Homo sapiens: one gene and its partner. The protein of the gene in region 1 purifies or fractionates together with the protein of each later gene. This does not show direct contact. Each region holds a gene or a part of one and is shown in the gene's direction. Other genes may lie near its edges.

The links. The genes of interacting proteins can lie anywhere in the genome.
Region 2: the proteins of STK24 (region 1) and PPP2CB purify together in Homo sapiens (affinity purification with mass spectrometry; 5 studies listed by BioGRID and IntAct, with this or other methods). This does not show direct contact.

Annotation. Positions count from the first base shown.
Region 1 is NC_000013.11:98,455,007-98,462,116, reverse strand, and holds part of STK24 (serine/threonine-protein kinase 24 isoform b precursor), read left to right. Parts: intron 1-219; coding exon 220-343; intron 344-1,676; coding exon 1,677-1,745; intron 1,746-4,812; coding exon 4,813-4,949; intron 4,950-6,940; exon of another isoform or gene 6,941-7,110. UniProt on the Homo sapiens protein: Serine/threonine-protein kinase that acts on both serine and threonine residues and promotes apoptosis in response to stress stimuli and caspase activation.
Region 2 is NC_000008.11:30,795,819-30,802,818, reverse strand, and holds part of PPP2CB (serine/threonine-protein phosphatase 2A catalytic subunit beta isoform), read left to right. Parts: intron 1-3,063; coding exon 3,064-3,273; intron 3,274-5,064; coding exon 5,065-5,238; intron 5,239-7,000.

The DNA of each region.
Region 1 (7,110 bases):
AGTTGTGGAACCACCTCCCGATGGTCTCTTCTCTGTGAGGGAGGAGGCGGGGGGGTCTTTGGGAAATCCCAGAGGGACTGGACAAGGGTGTGATGGGTGGGGACTTGGGGCTGGTGGGTGTGGGTTTAGAGGTCCCCAGGCGGCCTCCCCCTGAACGTCCCAGCGCCCCCAGAGCAGGTGTGCGAGCACTGATGGGATTTCCTGCATTTCTGTGTTAAGGGAAACAGATGGCCAAGCCTCGGGGGGCAGTGATTCTGGGGACTGGATCTTCACAATCCGAGAAAAAGATCCCAAGAATCTCGAGAATGGAGCTCTTCAGCCATCGGACTTGGACAGAAATAAGGTACGTCTGCTCACTCCAGAATGGCCACGCTGACCTCAGTCTGCAGTGTTTTGGAGGCACTTGTGTGTGAAGCTTGCTGTGGGTGCGGCTGGGGTCCTTTGTGGCAGCTGTCCTGGAATTTTGTTGCTAGGGGATGGGCAGATGAAGAGCTTTAGTTCTGTCTGATGATCCAGGTGTTCACACCAGGGAGTCTGGCCTCTGGTCTGTTTTGTGCCACTCTATTCTGCTCTCTGCAGCCCTGCTGTTGAGTTAGGATGTCCCGATGTGGCAATGTCATGGGGTTTGGGGGTGACCCGTGAAATGACTTCATAGCTCTGAGGGACTGTTGTGCATGTTGCGGTTACTTACATACATATCATAATTTTGTGACTGAGTTTTAAGGACCTTATAAGTAAATGCATTGCTTTTGATATTTATGTAAAACAATTTTGATTAATTGGTTTTATGCCTGTTAAATTTATGAAAGGCCATATATTTAGGGTCTTGTAAAGCATAGTGGTGTAGTTTCTTTCAGGCAGGGTGGGCCAGTGGCTGTCCCCTGTTGATCCTACAAGTCCCGCTTTGATAAGTGAACAGGTGTTAAATGTCCAAATAGAGGTTGCAAAAGTAGAAACTCGGTCTCTGTCCTAGACAGCCATTGGAATGGCCAATCTTGACCTGATTTCTATTTCCAGGGTTTCATTAGTAAAGTACTTTTCTCTCTCTCTCTCTCTCTCTCTTTTTTTTTTTTGAGACGGGGTCTCTGTTGCCCAGGCTGGAGTGCAGTGGTGCCATCAGAGCTCACTGTAGCCTCAAACTCCTGGGCTCAAGTGATCCTCCCACCTCAGCCTCCTGAGTAACTGGGATTGCAGGCATGTGACATCACGCCCAGTTTATTTAAAACTTTTTTTTTTTTTAATAGAAACATGGTCTCACTATGTTGCCCAAGCTGGTCTCGAACTCTTGGGCTCAAGTGATCCTCCTGCTTCGGCTTCCCAAAGTGTTGGAATGACAGGCATGAGCCACCACGCCCAACCAGTAAAGCACTTCTGCGTAGATAGCAAGACGAGGCAGTTCACCGCCTGTGCCCACACAGAGTCCCCTTCCACATGGAACCCAGATGCTGGTTTCCCCGGTGCGTGGGTTTTGCATGTCACTGCAGATGAAACTTTGAAGTCTAGTGAGAGGCAGCCGATAGTCTCCTTCAGATGTTATGGTGCGCAGAGGGTGTTTCCTCAGCGTGAAGTGTAGAGGCAACTCCTGCGCTTCCATAGTCCAGGTGGGAGGTTTATTAAATTATTGCCAATGTGAACGTCAACTGTTTCTGATGACCTTTTTTTCCCTCTCCCCCAAGATGAAAGACATCCCGAAGAGGCCTTTCTCTCAGTGTTTATCTACAATTATTTCTCCTCTGTTTGCAGAGGTAGGTACCTGGCTGGCCTTTTCGGAGTGGGAGGGGAGGGGGAAGGAGAAGCTGGACACACTTCAGTGGTGATGTTGCCAGTTAAGAGTTGGGGACATTAAGACAAGCTGGCAAAGGCTCGGAAAGCCTGCATGGTGCCTTCCCAAAGGCTGTCAGCACCACCTTGCGCCTCCCCTGTCCTGGGTGATGCCCACTCCGCCGCAGCCTGGAATGTGTAGACTGGATGACAGTGACCCAGCCCGAGACCCTGTGTCACCCGTTGCCCTGCTTTTTAGCAAATCTCATTGTGTACAGCCTGCTCTCTTTGCCTCAGACCAATTTCTGGCCATGTGAAAAGTAGATTCTTTCTTCTAAGGAGACGTTGGATGCCCTGGAGTCCTCCGGTTTCCCCTGAGCCACATGTTTCACTGAAGTCCCTCCTCTGCTCAGCAGTGCTGTGCTCCCAGCTGGGCCTCCCCACGCCCACTCCCTGCTCAGCCTCTCCCTCCCAGAGGAAAGTGCTCCCGTGGCCGTGTTTTGAGAGATTTTCAAAAGTAGGCTTTATAAGAATGAAGATTGTTCTGCATCTGGTTAGTAGCGGATTTGAAAATAAGTTGGAAGTCCCCTCTTTTCTTGTTGTGCCCCTTCCTGGCTGAGGCTGCCTTTGAGGTACTCACTGTGGGCCACACACGCATCTGTTTGCGTGGGGATCTTCCCTCTTTGGGCAGTTTTCCACTGCGGCTGTGTTTAGGGGTCCTGGTCCTTGAAGGGGAGGTGCTCAGGAGAGGAAGTGTCATAGGAGCTCATTCTCCTCCCCTGTGCCTGCGTCACGCAGCGGGGGACCCCCGGCCATGGGCCGTGCCTGGCCAGCCACGGTCCTGCCAGTGCCTCTTCCCAGCCCTCCAATAAGCCTTCACCTGTTGCCCTGCCCAGCAGGTGCCCTGGAGGGTTTGTCTGAGGGCCTCTGACCTGGCAAGTTCAGGGCCCGGTGGGAGCAGGGCTGTGGCCAGAGCCCGAGGCCTCACCTGCAGCTTCAAGTGGGAAGTAGCCGAGCCCGCTGGTGTCGGGGAAGCCACAGGGCACGCGGAGGCCCTGCTGGATGATGTCTGGCTTCAGCCCTGGCTCATGGTTCTGGGCACCTGTGTTCTTCCTAACTAGGATGTCCGGGTTGAGCGCCATCCTGCGCTTCATTTTGTCCCATGGGAGTTGGCCCCGTGGGATTTCCAGGCTGTGCTCCTGCGGCCCTGCCATTGGCCGCTGGAATAGGGTCAGTCAGGCAGTTAGGGAAAGTGCATGGACTTTTTCATTCTCCTGAGGCTGTTTATTTTTTTACTGGGCCCATGAAGCAACTTTGACATAATTATTCAGGACATATCCTAAACGCCGTCATATCCTGGATTTTCCAGGTAACCAATTGCTAAACTCACAGGCATCTTTCCCAATGTATTTTTAAGAATGATATTTGCTACCCTAGAGTTCAGAGTGTTTATTGTGTATTATTTCATACAATACTTGTAGAAGCCCAGTAGAAGGATTATATCCCCATGCTTACAGATGAGGACATTGAGGAGACGGGTGTTGGCGTCCCTGCTTTCCTTCAGGGAGCACAGGTCAGGTTGCTCCCTGAAGTCAGTGATGGGTCCAGCACGTTCCACACGGCAAGGGGACAGGCCCTCTCCCAGGGCGGCCCTTCTGCCGCCTTTGCTCCTTCTTTGAGACTTAGGGGCGGGGCATGGGCAGGAGGGAGAGTGCTGGATTGTAGCTGACCCTCTCGGGACTTGTAAATACTGTCAAGTGATTGGGAGTCCTAGACAAACACGAGTGGCCGCCTCGGGGCCGGCGGCGTGGCCCTGTGACAGCAAGAACTTCAGGAACAAATGCTCTCTACACCCACTGGCCCTCCAAGGTCAGACCCTTCTAGTTCCTGCCTGCCCCTTCAGTAGCGAAGAGAGAAGCCGTTGCTCTTAGGGCAGGGCTGGGTTTGGAAATGACAGCATGTGTTCAACAACCTGAAAACCAAGCTGAATGTCGCCTGAGATGTTTCTTTCTTCCCTGAAGAGGAGGCGGTGTCCATCACAAAGAGCCTCTTCTGTTGAGTTCTGAGCCATGCTGTATCTTGACTTGAACAGCTCTTATTTTCACAGTTCACGTTTTTGGGCCTCCAGAGAGAGACTTGGAGTTGACCTTCAACTGAGGGAAGTGTCTGAAGGCACTGTTGTGATTTCTCTTGGGAGTAGAGGTGCCAGGAAGAACACTGGAGATTCCCAGAATTTAAGGCTGCCACTTATTTACATGAAATCAAATATTTTGACTCTACTCTGGATCACAAAGGCAGTTTGCTGGAGTTTAAGAACCAACCCATTAACATTAGGAAGTAAGCAGTGTTGAGATCAGAATAACTTAGGATAGGCTTTGAAATTGCTTTTCTGGTACAAGGTTATGGTTGAAATAGGAAAACAGCACAGAGAGGACAGTCCATCACGGTGAGACTTGGGAAAGGCACACAGAGAGCTAGTCGTCTCTGTTCTGGCCTCGAACAGTAATGATTATGGTCTGATGATTGCCCTGTGTATACATAACTGCTCTCAGAGCATTTGAATCACCTTTCTTCAAAAGGAACCCGGGCCGGGCACAGTGGCTCACGCCTGTAATCCCAACACTTTGAGAGGCCGAGGCGGGCGGATCACTTGAGGTCAGGAGTTCAAGACCAGCCTGGCCAACATGGTGAAATCCTGTCTCTATTAAAAATACAAAAACTAGCTGGGCATGGAGGCAGGGGCCTGTAATCCCAGCTACTCGGGAGGCTGAGGCAGGAGAATCGCTGGAACCCAGGAGGCGGAGGTTGCAGTGAGCTGAGATCACGCCACTGTACTCCAGCCTGAGCAACAAAGCCAGACTCCGTCTCACAAAAAAAAAAAAAAAAAAAAGCAATTTGAAGTGGCCTGGAGCCCTAGCCAAAGCTTTTCCCGGACACCCTGGGGCTGGGGTAGTGTCGTGGTCCACACGCCGTGTTGTTCCTTGAACAGCATGCTTCCCAGTTTTGCAGCTGGTGTGCTTCATGCCATTCTTCCTGTTCGTGTGTTTTCAGTTGAAGGAGAAGAGCCAGGCGTGCGGAGGGAACTTGGGGTCCATTGAAGAGCTGCGAGGGGCCATCTACCTAGCGGAGGAGGCGTGCCCTGGCATCTCCGACACCATGGTGGCCCAGCTCGTGCAGCGGCTCCAGAGGTAACTACCCAGGGCCCCTCTGGGCTGGGGAAGGAGAGACCTGCACTTGGGCTGGGACTTAGTTGATGAGTTTGGTACTTGATTCTTGGCCTGTCTGTTCCTGTTATCTTGCAGGCCTCAGGGTAGACAGAGTTGAATTAGAGGAGACTTTGTTCTGAATTCTAGAAATCAATGTGAATGAAGGATCTGAATCTGGAAACTACTGGAAAGCCCACAGGACTTAGTGCATTTGTAGCTTTTGCCACATAAATACAGGGTGGTGGTGAAATACCTGTTTCCTCTTAATTATGCAGCTTAATTATTGGCCAGAGAATGATCGTTCTTAGCCAGATGTGTGTAACTATCTATCTGGTTTTCGGCTTTAAAGTCAAGTGTGAGAAATGACAGCAGCTTTGGTGTGGTCAACTCAGCGGGAGCGGGCGCAGGTGTGTTCCCTGTGTTAGCTGTGTGTGTCATGTCTGGAAGCCTCCTTGGTAGGGGTTCATCTGTGCCAGCCTGTAGGGAGCTTTTGTCCCTGCCCAGTGGCCCCACCTGTTGAATGCACTATGGGTGAGGACTCAGTGGGGTGACAGTTTTGCCCTCCCTGCCCCCTCCCAACTTGTTGTAGGAGTATCCATGGGAACCAAGCCCCTCCTGACTGCCATCTGGCACAAGTGCAGGCGTTTGGAGGCAGTGGATGTGTGCTGGGAAGCCGCTCTGTGTGACCTGAGGGTGATTTGTCACTGGGCTGTCCTCCACACCCCCAGGAGGACCAGGCGTGCTGCTGCCTTGACAGTTCATCTTCAGGTGTCCAGGCTGACACCTCCCAAAGCTGGCTGAGACTCTGTGATCATGAGGGGGATTTCTGGGTCTTTCCTGAGACTGCGTCCCACCTGACAGTACATAAAGAAGTTTTGCACACGTGAGGTCCCTTTTGCTATTTGGAAGTGATTGAAGGGGCTGCCTACTGTCCTGTGAAGAGCCCCTCTACGTGGGGACAGCAGGAGAAAACCACAGTTCTGATACTTCACGTTTATGCTTCTGAACTCGGGTTTCTTAGTAAGACATTTCAACTTTTTAAGTTGCTAGAAAATAAAAATGATCTACTTGGCTGCCTTCAATTTTGAGGCAATTGAAGGACGATCCCTCCCTCCTTTGATACTAAAAACAATATAGGAATAAAGGAAAATAGAATTAAAAAGTCACCCATCTTTTGCCTGAACACAAACTTTTTGATTTCTCAAACTTAGCATCACATACCTCATTCTAGAGGCATTTATTTCCCATTAGAAAGAGCTTTATAATAAAACAAATAGAACAAAACCAGAAACGGGTAGGATTGTTACTGTCTTGTTGGGCATTTTGCTCTCTGCTTTTGTAGTATTACTTTTAAAACCAATACTTTCCACACTGTCCAGAATTGCCTGAAATTGTTATGAACTGTTTGTTTATATACGTGACTTGATTTCCCCAGGGCAGCTCCAGGGCACAGAGTGTGTGGCTTGTATGTGTTGAACTGATCCACGTTTCCCATTCCCAGGCCCCTATCTCTCTGTTCCTCTTCTTTTAGTTGTTAAGGCAAGTTGATCTGTACCAGTGCTGGCCAGTAGAAGTACAGCGTGGGCCACACACAGAATTTTATGTTTTCTGCTGGATGTGGTGGCTCATGCCTGTAATCCCAATGCTTTGGGAGGCCCAGGCAGGAGGATCGCTTGAGGCCAAGAGTTTGAGACCAGCCTGGGCAAAATAGCAAGACCCTGTCTCTACCAAAAAAAAAAAATTTAGCTAGGCATGGTGGCTTGTACCTGTGGCCCTAGCTACTTGGGAGGCTGAGGCTGCAGAATTGTTCGAGCTGAGGAGTTCGCGGCTATGGCTGTGATCACGTTTGCACTCCAGGCTGGGCAACAGAGTGAGAACCTGTCTCTAAAAACCAAACAAAAAGAGAATTTTACATTTTCTAGTAGCCATATTTTTAAAAAGCAAAAAGAAGTGAAATTAGTTTCAACAATACATTTTTTAACCTGCCAGATCCAAAGTATTATTTCAACATTAATAACAACAATCATCAATAAGGTATTTTACATTTTTGGAGGGACCGTCTTTGGAGTTGGTGTGTGTTTTACACTTAGCACATCTCCATTCAGACGCAGCACATTTTACGTGCTCACTGGGCATCGTGGCT
Region 2 (7,000 bases), on another chromosome or scaffold:
CCTCCATATTGTAGCATGTATCTGGACTTCGTTCCTTTTTATGGCTGAATAAAATTCCATTGTGTGGATATTTTATAATTACTGCCATCTGGAATTTGTTTTGAAGTTTAAGAAGCCAGGTTTTTTCCGTTTGAAAAAGTAATACAGAATTTGTTTTTTAAAATTTCGAGCATTGGCCAGTCACGGTGGCTCAGACCTGCAATCTCAGCACTTTAGGAGGCTGAGTGGGAGGACTGCTTGAGCCCAGGAGTTTGAGGCTGCAGTGAGCTACGTTCACACCACTGCACTCCAGCCTGGGCAACAGAGCGAGACCCTGTCTCAAAGAAAATTTGTGCAAGCACCTCAGAAAGGTAGCAAGGAAAGCAAATGCACTCTACCCACCATTCCTGTCCCCTGCCCTCCTACCTCCCAGACAACCATTATGTTTCTGTATATAATCTCCTCAGCCATGTTCTTCATATGCAAAAAATATGTGGTGTGCAGAATGTTTGTGGTGTATTGGGAGCTGTTTTGTGGAATAAACTTGGCTTCTGGTAAAATTATTGTTTAATTTGTGATCTCAGGAAAAGAAACTGAAGGGTATAAAGGCCTTAAGATTACACAATTAGATTAAAACTGAAGAGAACCCATGTTTTCTGGAAGACTTCATTGCATATAATCTCATTCTAATTAATTACAAGCAAGGAGAAGAAAGTATGGGCTACATTGTCCATAACTCTTGGGAATCCTACCAGGCTATAAGCAGAAAAGGCATTTGTAGAAGAATACATGGTAGCCTAGAATCAAAAGAAAAGCTGGAGAACCAAGCATGAGCATTTTGCAGAAATTAAGGGAGGTTAGAGGTGCAGTCAGAATCATACCTTAGAAATGATTTAGAACACTAGAGAGAACACTTCTGTTGGAATAGAACTTGCCATTGTCCCTGCTCTTTAGAGTTGCTTCAAATTAAGAGTCTGGGCTGGGCGCATCTAGTTGGCATAAAGTAATCTGGGGCTAGAGTAACTTTGTGATTCCTACAGTGTGTGTACAAACTATTGTGTGTTTTGAAAATCGCTACAGGTTGAGTATCCCTCAACTAGTGTTAAAGTCTGTTGACAAAAATGCAGAGTAGCAGGAAATACAGTGAAACTCAAAATCCATGTTTTAAATACTCTTCAGATTATCAAATCACTGAAGAGGCAGAGAACTGTCTGTCCCTAAAATTGTGCTCTCTCCCCCACCAGTCTAAGCTGTCATCTGCTTTTACTTTAAGCTTCATCCTGTTTGACTTTTTTTTTTTTTTTCTGTGACTGAGTTTTGCTCTGTCGCCCAGGCTGGAGTGCAGTGGCACGATCTTGGCTCACTGCAAGCTCCGCCTCCCAGGTTCATGTCATATTCTCCTGCCTCAGCCTCCTGAGTAGCTGGGGCTACAGGCGCCCGCCACCATGCCGGGCTAATTTTTTGTATTTTTAGTAGAGATGGGGTTTCACTGTGTTAGCCAGGATGGTCTCAATCTCCTGACCTCGTGATCCACCTGCCTCAGCCTCCCAAAGTGCTGGGATTACAGGCATGAGCCACCGTGCCCGGCCCTGTTTGACTTTCACTGTGCTGTGTTGTTGCCTTTTTTTTCTTTTGTCTCACTCTCACCCGGGGTTAACTGCAAAGTGGTGCGACCATGGCTCACTGCAGCCTTGAACTCCCCAGCTCAAGCTGTCTTCCCACCCCACCCCACCCTCCTAAGTAGCTGGGACTATAGGCACACACCACCATGCCCAGCTATTTTTTAAATTTTTTATAGAGACCAGAGGTCTCACTATGTTGCCCAGCCTGGTCTCAAACTCCTGGATTCAAGCTATCCTCCCCCCTCGGCCTCCCAAAGTGCTGGAATTACAGGCATGAGCCACCGCGCCAGGCTGCCCTGTGTTTTAGCTATGCTAGCCATCCGGTTGTTTCTTCCTCTCGGTTTGCATTCTGTATTAGTCCCAGTTCTCATCTCTTAGCTTTCGTGGTTTTCTGTTTCTAATTTCTCATGGACCTGGAAACTCGGTAAATAGCTTGTTGGAATTTTGTAGATAACAGTAGGCCCAGAATAAGGCCTGAGAGTCTCTTCTGGTGGGTTAGATACATTTTTATGATGTCTGTTTTGTTACTTCAGAGGCTTTTAAATTTTTCTTCCTGATTCTGGGATCTTTTGCTATTAGGCAGAGAGGCCAGATCGATGAGCCATTAGTGAACTTCGATTTAGTCAGAACATTTCATTTGCCAGTGTTTAAGCATAAATTCTGTACTTCAGGGCCACCTAATGGTATTTTCTAACTTAATTCTATAAATATAAAATAATTGGAATAAAGAAATTCAAGGTTGGCCTATGAATTGGTGTAAGAATGTTTGTTCACACAAGAATTTGCATAATTTGTGACTTTTTTCTTTCATTGACCTTTTTAAACTTGTGAATAATAAGATTATTCTTTTTAAAACACAGACCTTCTGCCTTGAAGATTTGCCTATTCTGGACATTTCATGTAAATGGAATTGTACATTATGTGATCATTTGTGACTGACTTCTTGCACTTACCATAATGTCTTCAAAGTTGTAGCATGTATCAGTACTTCATTTCTTCATAGCTGAGTGACTATTCCATTGTATGAATATGTTATGTCCATTCATCGGTTGATCAATATCTGGTGGTTTCTACTTTTTGGCTGTTATTAATAATGCTGCCATGAACATGTATAAACTGGATTTCATTTCTCTTGAGTATATACCTAGGAGTGGAACTGCTGGATTACATGGTAATTTTAGGTTTAACTTTGGAGGAACTGCCAGACAGTTTTCCACAGCAGCTGCACCATTTTGCATTTCCACCAGCAGTGTATGAGGGTTCCAGTTTATCCACATGTTTGCAACACTTATTAACTGTCTTTTTTATTATAGCCTTTCTAATGAAAGTGTTATCTCGTGGTTTGGTTTTCACATACGCTTTTATAAGGCACTTTTCAAGTGTTTTTTTCCCCAAATTTTCTTTTAATAGATAAGAAATGATAGTTTTAACTTTGTAATTGTTGATTTCACTTTTCTAACAGGCAAAGGAAATTTTAACAAAAGAATCAAATGTGCAAGAGGTTCGTTGCCCTGTTACTGTCTGTGGAGATGTGCATGGTCAATTTCATGATCTTATGGAACTCTTTAGAATTGGTGGAAAATCACCGGATACAAACTACTTATTCATGGGTGACTATGTAGACAGAGGATATTATTCAGTGGAGACTGTGACTCTTCTTGTAGCATTAAAGGTATGATTATTGAAATTCAATTTTTTTTTCAAGATTTAAACCAGGCAAAAGGCAAGAATGACAGTATTGCATATCATCTGTTTTATGGTCTGTTCAGTTTATAGCCCCTTAAAATAATAATTGGTTTTACATCTTTTTAAAGGAGAGGTGAAAAGGATAACTTCTGTGTATTCCCGATAAATGTATCATTCTCTCGAGTAGTCCATAGCTGAAGTCTTGGAATCATATTTGACTTTATCACTTATCCGTTATATTGAGTCAGTAGACAAGTCTTTTTAAATCCTTGCTTTGAAAAGTCTGTTGTTCCTGTCTCTTTCTATTTTCACACAGTTTATCACTTCACAATTCGATTGTTACAATAGCTTAGTAACTAATATTTCTGCCTCCAAGATCTGATCCCCCCCAAATCCACCTGGCATACGCTGGCCGATGAAATCTCTTATTTAACCCTTTTATATTGTTACTTCCTGTTGATTGCCTGTTGCCTATAGAATCAAATTCAAACTCCTTGCCTGGCCTTCTATAGTCTAGTCTGAATTTTTGCCTGCCAGCGGTTGGTAGCATAAACTCTGGCTCAAATCAAAGTTTCTTCTTATTCAGTGCTCTGGACTCTGTTTATTTCCATAGTCGATTTCCCCCACGAGGTTATCCTGTCCCTGATTTCTTACCTTTCTGCCAAGACTCAGCTCAGGTCTCACTTCCTCCATGTAACCTTCAACCATTTTAGCCTTATTCCTTCTGCTCTAAATTACTATGAGGAAACTTATTCTCCCAGCCCTTATTTATGCTGCAAAAGTGGCTTATTGCCTTCTATTACTTATTATTTTACATATGTCCTTAGTGAGGTTAGTCCCTCAACAGCAGAAGCCATATATTACATGGTCATGGGTCACTTAACTGCAGGCATACATTCTGAGAAATGTGCCATTAGGTGATTTTGTCATCTTTGGAACTTACACAAACCTAGGTGGTATAGCCTACTGCACACAAAGGCTGTAATGGTATAGTCTCTTGCTCCAGCCAACATCGTACATGTAATCTGTTAACAAAAATGCTGCCCAGCACATGACTGTACTTGTGTAGATCTGGCATCTGGCTTTATAGCACCAAACTTACGTTAGACACATAACGGATGCTTAGTAAAATATGTATGAATTGAAGTACATACTTGCAGCTTTTAGCTTAATTTGCAGAATCCAGTGCTTTTTCGTATTTCTTATCAGATGCATTCCTAACTAAATAGTCGCTTATGTTTTTTAATAGAAAGGAAACTATTAATACATTTGAAATCTTGCCCAGTTTTGTCAAGGGCCTGTTTTTGTGTTATTATTGGCAAATCCAATCTTCCTGTGGGAAATAAAAATTGAAAAGGGAAGAAGTTAATCTGTAGAGTTTGTCTCAGCTTCAAACCTGTGATTTTCACTACTCATTCAGCAGTAAGAAGTCATAGTGTTCTAGAAAGATTTAGGAAAGTAGTAATAATTTGATGATGAAGATAATAGAAGCAAAGTATCAGATACAAGTTTATTATAGTAATATAAGTATTAGTTAAAGGTTCTGATGAGGGTTGTCGAAACCTGATGAAAAAGGATGATTATAATAAACACGTCAAATGTTAACCAGTAAGACCTGGTTATGAATAAGCAAGTTTTTTATTTTGAAACTGAAATTAACATTTAATATACTGGTGGCCAAAAGCGCCGTGTTTAAAAATGGGTCAGAGACTGGTGTACTTCACATGACACTAGTAAAAATGTGATTTTACTATGGGTTTTACTCCTTTTCTTCCAGGTGCGTTATCCAGAACGCATTACAATATTGAGAGGAAATCACGAAAGCCGACAAATTACCCAAGTATATGGCTTTTATGATGAATGTCTGCGAAAGTATGGGAATGCCAACGTTTGGAAATATTTTACAGATCTCTTTGATTATCTTCCACTTACAGCTTTAGTAGATGGACAGGTATGTATATGTGTGCTTACATCTTGGGAGGAGGTAAATGGAAGCAGAGATTGACTATTGGTAAGCTGGGGTCTAGATTCATATGACCTGTGTTTCTGCATCTCCTCGGCCTTTTCCTCCTCCTTCCCTTATACTTAAAATTTCAAAGCAGGGAAGTGGATAAGTTTCACATACATTTGGACCAGCAAATTTTCCTGTTGTTCTCAGATATGTATGTAAATCTTTTAACCAAAGAATATGCTGTGCTTTTTAAGATATCGATAAACATTATAAATAAATGTTTAAGACACTGATGTATAGTACTAGCAAAGCAAGATGTTATTTAAAACTATCTCTGCATATACATGCAGTGTCTGCTGGTTACCATGAATAACTTTTCATTTCTATTTTCATGGTAACTGCAAATGTTATATTGTGTATTACACCTTCCCTGAGAAGTGAATGCTTGGCTGGGCACAGTGGCTAGTACTTTGGGAGGCCAAGGCAAGAGGACCGCTTGAGTTCAGGGGTTCAAGACCAGCCTGGGCAATGTAGTAAGACCCTGTCTCTACAAAAAAAAAAATTTAAAAATTAGCTAGGCATAGTGGCGCGTGCTTGTGGTCTAGCTACTCAGGAAGCTAGAGGTGAGAGGATCTCTTCAGCCCAGGAAGTTAAGGCTGCAGTGAGCCGTGATCCAGCCTGGGCTTCAGCCTGGGCAACAGCAAAACCCCATCTCAAAGAACAAAAAAAGAAAATAGAAGCAAATGCTATTTCTGCATTTGCTGTAACAAGTAGTGCAGACATGTCATGAAACATTCAAAAGTATAAGAAGAAATTATGCAAATTTCCTATTTCAATTTCTAGAGATAATCACTGTAAGCATGAACTGATTTAAATTTAAATATAAAACAAAAGCCGGGCAAGTTGGCTCCTACCTGTAATCCCAGCACTTTAGGAGGCCAAGGTGGGTGGATCACCTGAGGTAGGGAGTTCGAGACCAGCCTGGCCAACATGGTGAAACCCCATCTCTACTAAAAATACAAAAATTAGCCGGGGATGGCATTGCATGCCTGTAGTCCCAGTCCCAGCTACTTGAGAGGCTGAGGCAGGAGAATCACTTGAACCTGAGAGAGACAGAGGTTGCAGTGAGCCAAGATCGTATCACGGCACTCCAGCTTGGGTGACAAAGTGAGACTCCATCTCAAAAAATAAAATAAATAAATATAAAACATATAATAAAACTCCATAATTCTTAAATTATGAAAGCCCAGAGTTGTCAAGAATGTAATAAATTCTCTCTTAGACTGCTCGTGGGAATATAATTTGGTTATAACTTTCCCTGTGTAATCCTGACAGTCTTTTTTCTCAGCCATGATTTTGGACACTGCCGTGATTAATTTGAAAGGACGATACTTTGCCTGGACTTGTTAAAAGAAAATGTGAATTTAAAAGATGTTAAATTTTAATTAAGGTTGTTTTTAATTGTTTTGAAGCAACATAGTCTTCATTAATAATAAAATTGCTGGACAGAATGATTTTTAAAAGACAGCCTATCAGTTTTAATGAAGTATCTAGTTTTTAAAATGGGTGCGTTAGTAGAGCTTTTATATATTTTTCCCTTCCTCCTTCCTTCCTTTCTTTCTGAAAAGTTACTAGAAAAGAAATAATAGTGAACAAAACTGATCTAGAAGAAAAGATGGAAGGCACATAAAACACTAGGAATGAAATAAGGCATAATTATAACTATGCAGGAGCTCGTGTATCACAAGAACAGGTGCAGCTT